Regions from separate parts of the Homo sapiens genome. Here region 1 is linked to region 2. Evidence: fine-mapped expression QTL. A gene starts in region 2. The other region holds a variant in brackets. All regions are shown on one strand. Distances are from middle to middle. Region 1 has its middle 41 kb from the start of LMTK2. Region 2 holds the start of LMTK2 (lemur tyrosine kinase 2).

The links.
Region 1: its variant is fine-mapped to the expression of LMTK2 in nasal epithelium (TOPMed, PIP above 0.99).

What each region holds. Positions count from the first base shown.
Region 1 is chr7:98,064,301-98,067,210 of GRCh38, forward strand. No RefSeq gene overlaps it. Among named protein-coding and RNA genes, the nearest start is that of LMTK2, 41 kb to the right of the region's middle. The variant T/A (reference allele first, on the strand shown) is at 1,246.
Region 2 is chr7:98,105,504-98,108,413 of GRCh38, forward strand. It overlaps LMTK2 (lemur tyrosine kinase 2), which reads left to right and starts at 1,359. Exons shown (of 14, transcript NM_014916.4): 1 at 1,359-1,777. The coding sequence starts at 1,675.

The sequences.
Region 1 (2,910 bases), 41 kb before region 2:
CCAGAAGTTGGAGGCTGCAGTGAGCCATGATTGTGCCACTGCATACCAGCCTGGGCAATAGAACAAGACCCCCCATCTCAGAAAAAAGGCCAGTGGCAGTTGAAAATTATTTATTGTGTGCCTACTATGTGCCAGGCACTGTTCCAGGCTCTTGAGTTTCAAGATAATCAACATAGGAAAAATCCCCTATGCCTCCAGAACTTATGTTCTAATGAAGGGAGACAGACCAAAACCAAGAATGATCAAAGTCAGGGGTTAAGAAGTGCAACAGAGAGGCTGGGCATGGTGGCTCATCCCTGTAATCCCAGCACTTTGAGAGGCCAAGGAGGGTGGATCATTTGAGGTCAGGAGTTCGAGACCAGTCTGGCTAACATGGTGAAACCTTGTCTCTACTAAAAATACAAAAATTAGCCGGGCGTGGTGGTACATGCCTGTAATCCCAGCTACTCGGGAGGCTGAGGCAGGAGAATTGCTTGAACTTGGGAGGCGGAGGTTGCAGTGAGCCGTGATTGTGCCACTGAACTCCAGCCTGGGTGACAGAGGGAGACTGTCTCAAAAAAAAAAAAAAAAAAAAAAAAAGAAGTGCAATAAAAAATGAAATGGTGGGGAGAGGTAAATATAGAGTGTGGGAAAAAGGCTACAAGTAGAGGGTGGTCAGAGAAGGCTTCACCGAGCAGGTGACATTTGAGTAAATACCCAAATAAAATGAAGAAGCCAGGCACGCAGATGTCAGCATGCGGGGAAGGGTGTTCGGGCAGAGGCAACAGCAAATGCAAAGGCTCTGCGATGAGATGTTGGAGAAAAATCCAGCTCTTGTTTTTTGTTTTGTTTTGTTTTGAGACAGAGTCTTGCTCTGTTGCCCAGGCTGGAGGGCAATGGCGAGATCTTGGTTCACTGCAACCTCTGCCTCCCGGGTTCAAGTGATTCTCCTGCCTCAGCCTCCTGAGTAGCTGGGATTACAGGTGCCTGCTACCATGCCTGGCTAACTTTTTTGTATTTTTAGTAGAGAGGGGGTTTCATCACGTTAGCCAGGCTGGTCTCAAACTCCTGGCCTCAAGTGATCCGCCCGCCTTGGCCTCCCAAAGTGCTGGGATTACAGGCATGAGTCACCGTGCTTGGCCTCAATGAAGCATTTTTGAGTGCTATTTATAACATTTATATTTAATATCGGCATCCCTGAAATTAAAAATATTTTATTAATTTTTTTATTTTTTTAATTTTTAATTAAATTTTAATTTAATTAAA[T/A]TTAAATTAAATTTTAATTTAATTAAATTTAAATTAAATTTGAATTAAATTTGAATTAAATTAAATTTGAATTAAATTTTAATTAAATTAAATTTTTTAATTTTTAGAGGTAGGGTCTCACTCTGTCACCCAGGCTGGAGTGCAGTGGTGTGGTAAGCTATGGCTCATTGCACCCCGGAACTCCTAGGCTCATGTGATCCTCCTGCCTCAGCCTCCTGAGTAGCTGGGACTACAGGTAAGCACCACCACAGCTGGCTAATTTTTAAAAATGCTTATAGAGACAGGATCTTGTTATGTTGCCCAGGCTGATCTTGAACTCCAGAGCTCAAGCAATCCTCCCACCTCAGCCTTCCAAAGCACTGGGATTACAGGCATGAGCCACCTTGCCCGGTCTAAAAACATTTTAAGAAAAGCGTGCCAGTGATGGTCCAAGTACATTTGGTAGCACATTAGAGCCTTGTTGCCCTTTGGAAGGATGTGTAACCTGGAAGATGTTGGTGTAGAGCGAGGACAGAACCAAGGGAGCCATTCTCAGCAACAGAGCATTTTTCATAATGCTTTCCGTGTGGTTCTTCTTTTTGCCTAGCCTTGTATACAATCAGTCCCCCTCCCAAAATTGAGAAAATGATGAAAAAAATTACACAAAATGTCAACTGAAGAATTATGAGGTTCACAAATTTGGAAAGGAGAGCTTTATTTCTTACAAAGGGTTGCAGCCTACAGGATGCCATCCCACAGGCTGGGAAGCGTAGCCTCAGGGAGAAGCCAGAAGCAGGTACGTGGAGGGAGGAAAGAAGGAGACAGGAATTTATACGGAACTATAAATATTCAACTATACATATTCAACAGGTGACTATACATATTGAACAGGTTATGGGAGGAGCTATGAATATTCATGAAGAGAGAACATACATATGCCTCATCAGCAAACAGCATGTTATATGCATCCTGTGTTCACTTTGGGCAGAGACTTAACATTTAAATGTGTCACAATGAAGCCCTACACATCAAAAGGTGAAGCAGAGGACACGAAGGCGCTCAGTGTACAGCATCTGTAGACTGGTCAGAACCACTCCATGATCTGTGGTCTCTTCTTTTGTTTTGTTTTGAGATGGAGTCCCAATCTGTCGCCTAGGCTGGAGTGCAGTGGGTGCAATCTCGGCTCACTGCAAGCTCCGCCTCCCAGGTTCATGCCATTCTCCTGCCTCAGCCTCCCGAGTAGCTGGGACTACAGGCGCCCACCACCACGCCCGGCTAATTTTTGGTATTTTTAGTAGAGATGGGGTTTCACCGTGTTAGCCAGGATGGTCTCGATCTCCTGACCTTGTGATCTGCCTGCCTCAGCCTCCCAAAGTGCTGTGATTACAGGCATGAGCCACCATGCCTGGCCTCTCTTTCTTTTTTGTTTTTTTTTTTTTTTTTTGGAGACGGGGGGTCTCACTCTGTTGCCCAGGTTGGAGTACAGTGGCCCAATCACGGCTCACAGCAGCCTCAACTCCTAGGCTCAAGTGATCCTCCCACCTCAGCTTCCCAAGTAGCTGAGACCACAGGTGTGCACTACCACACCTGGTGAATATTTTGGATTTTTTGTAGAGATGGGGTCTTGCTATGTTGCCCAGGCTGCTCTCGAACTCCTGGGCTCAAGTGATCCTCTTGTCTCAGCTT
Region 2 (2,910 bases):
TCCTGGGTTCGAGCAATTTTCCTGCCTCAGCCTCCCAAGCAGCTGGGATTACAGGCATGCGTCACCGTGTCTGGCTAATACTTTTTGTATTTTTAGTAGAGATGGGGTATGACCATGTTGGCCAGGCTGGTCTTGAACTCCTGGTCTGAAGTGATTCACCCACCTTGGCCTCCCAAAGTGCTGAGATTACAGGTGTGAGCCACCGTGCCCAGCCAAGCCATGGACTTTTAAATTCAATGTTTCTCGTTCCAGGTATTTGTCTCCTTAGATATTTATTGGCTTGCCTCAATCATCCAACAAATATTCCCTGGGCATCATCTGTGTGTCCAGTGCTGTGTTAACATCATCGACAGCTGGCATTTAGGATGGACATTTGGGGAGTTTGGAGAATTGGGGAGGTTACACTGTTGCCAGGTGGCAAAGTCTCATCTGATAAGATTGAAATCAGCTCCTCTCATGCACACACTGAACCATAGCGCCTCTCCAGAAAAGCTTAGCATTTTCCCAACCCCCATGCCTCTGACCACTATATTACTTGTGTCTGGAGAGTGCTTTCTCTATCCTCTCTGCAGGACTGTGTTCTCACCTCACCTCTTGGTGGGGAGAAGGCCACCCCTGGGAGCTGCTCTGCCCTGGTACCTGGGACCAGGGCCATGCACCATTGCTTTAGAGAACACCTGCTCCGACCCAGGTCCTGCACCAGGGATTTCCCACCAGCTGAATCAGACACAGTTGCTGTCCTCAGGGAGCTTACAGTCACGGGTCAATAGGATACTGCAGCTAGGATAGCAGTCCACACAGGGCCAGGGCGGGGCACTAAGGAGATGACAGTCATTTCTCCTAGAGAGTCATAGATGAAGTCATATGTCAGGTGAGTCTCGACAGATGAAAGGAAGAGTGTCTGCCAGGTGGACAAGAGGCAACAGCTTGAGCTCAGGAGGTGAGTCAGTGGGTGATGCCGAGAGAGGCATTCTCTTGATCAATTCAAGTGAAAAGCCCAAAGCTGTTTGATGGCTGAGAGGATGTGTAGGTCAACTTAAGGAGAAGAGCCTAAAACAGCTCTGACAAGTAAAAAAAAAAAAAAGGCAGAAGACAAGACAGGCCTATTTTTGCATGTTATAAAACACCGAGAAAAAAATATCAGGATGATTGTCATGGTCTTCTTTACATTTTCCTGTATTTTTCAATTTAAAATAATTGTTGGTGTTACCTGCTGCCCACGCACTCCTCCGTCTGCAGGGGGCGCACCGGCCGCCACCGCTCACTCCTTCAGGATGATGGGCGGGGCCTCCTGGGCCGGTGTGGACTGACGAGTGGCTGGCCGCCCTGTCCATCACGACATCCCGCCCCCGCGCTACGTCACATGACGCAGCCCATCATGGCGGCGGGAGCGCGGCTTCCCAGGCCCGCCGCTCCGCAGGGCTGCTGGCGTTGCTGCTGTTGAGAGGCGGCGGCGGCGGCGCAGGCGGGCGGGAAGGATGGTGTTTCTGCGACTGGAGCGGCAGGTGCGGACCGGGAGCCGGACCGAGGTTTGGCAGAAGCAACGTGTGCTCGGGAGCAACCGGCGCGGGTGCCACTGAGGCAGCGGAGGGAGGCAGGATCGACTGACGGGCGAACGGACGGACGGACGGAAGGCGACTCGAGGGCCGGCCCCGGAGCCGCGCCGTGGGCGAGATGCCGGGGCCGCCGGCGTTGCGGCGGAGGCTGCTGCTGCTGCTGCTGGTCCTCCTGATCGCCGGCAGTGCTGGGGCCGCGCCACTTCCGCAAACAGGTGCAGGTGAGCGGGCCCGCGGCGGGGACGGGGCTGCGGGGTCTTCGGCGTGGAGGGGAGGGGGCGGCAGGGCCGGGCCGGCCTCGGCGCCGAGGAATCGGAGGGCCTGCCGGGGGCGGGAAGCCCAGGGAGGCGAGTGATTAGGGAGATTTCTGCCGCAGGGGCGTGGGATTTGGGGGGGCGGGAGCGAGGCGACGTCGTTGGGGCTGGGGAGGGCGGCGGGCGAGGTAGCAGCCACCGACCCCTCCCGGGATAGGCTGCGGTGCCGGCCCTGGACCTGTTGCCTTAAGATCCTCAGCTTATATCGCTTCCTGGCAGTTCAGCTTCCCTTTCCAGATGTCACCTGCCTCTTGTGCTTTTTTTTCGCATCTCATAAGAACCGTTTCTTAGCCCTAATCATACTTAAATGCAAATGACTTGGCGAGCTGTGCGGAGTTTGTTTTCGCTCCTTGCAACTTATTCTGAAGTTGTAAATTGATTTTAGACGCTGTGCTTTTTATTCGGAATGTATCTCCGGGGATGAGAAGGAAACAACTATAAATATTTCTATTTTAGGAAGCCAGTGATTAGAGTAGCAGGCGTTGAATAACTATTGACAAACTGGCTTAAGGGTGATGGAAGTTTCTATTTTAGCTAACGTCAGTGTATGATTTTCTTTTCTCCCCCCCCGCCCATTTTCTCAACATCGTTTTTATTTGGGGTTTATTTTCCTAAATAAAACTTCAACCCAAGAAAACATCCCAAGTTGGGTCATTTTTCTAAAAAGGAAAAAAAAATCTAGGCTAACTTGGCGTTATTGACTGCCGCCATTACCTTTGAAATGGGGAAAGATTGAAATTTCATACATTCATAGAATGTTAGAGTTAGAAGAGACCTTAAAGAAAATTTAGACCAATTTCTTCTTTACGTAGTAGGAGATACTGGGCATGTTGGGTCAAATGACCTACCCAGGGTGACACAGCTTCGTTGTAGGCAGAGCCCCAAAGCCAGGTCTTAGATACCCCTAGTTGTATGATTTTTTTTAAGTCTTGTAACTGTTTTGGAATACTCTCGAGGTCAAGAGTTATTTTGGAATAATGTTAATTGGGTACAGAATGTGGATGTACTGTCTCCAGTAAAGACATATTTTTCAAACAAAT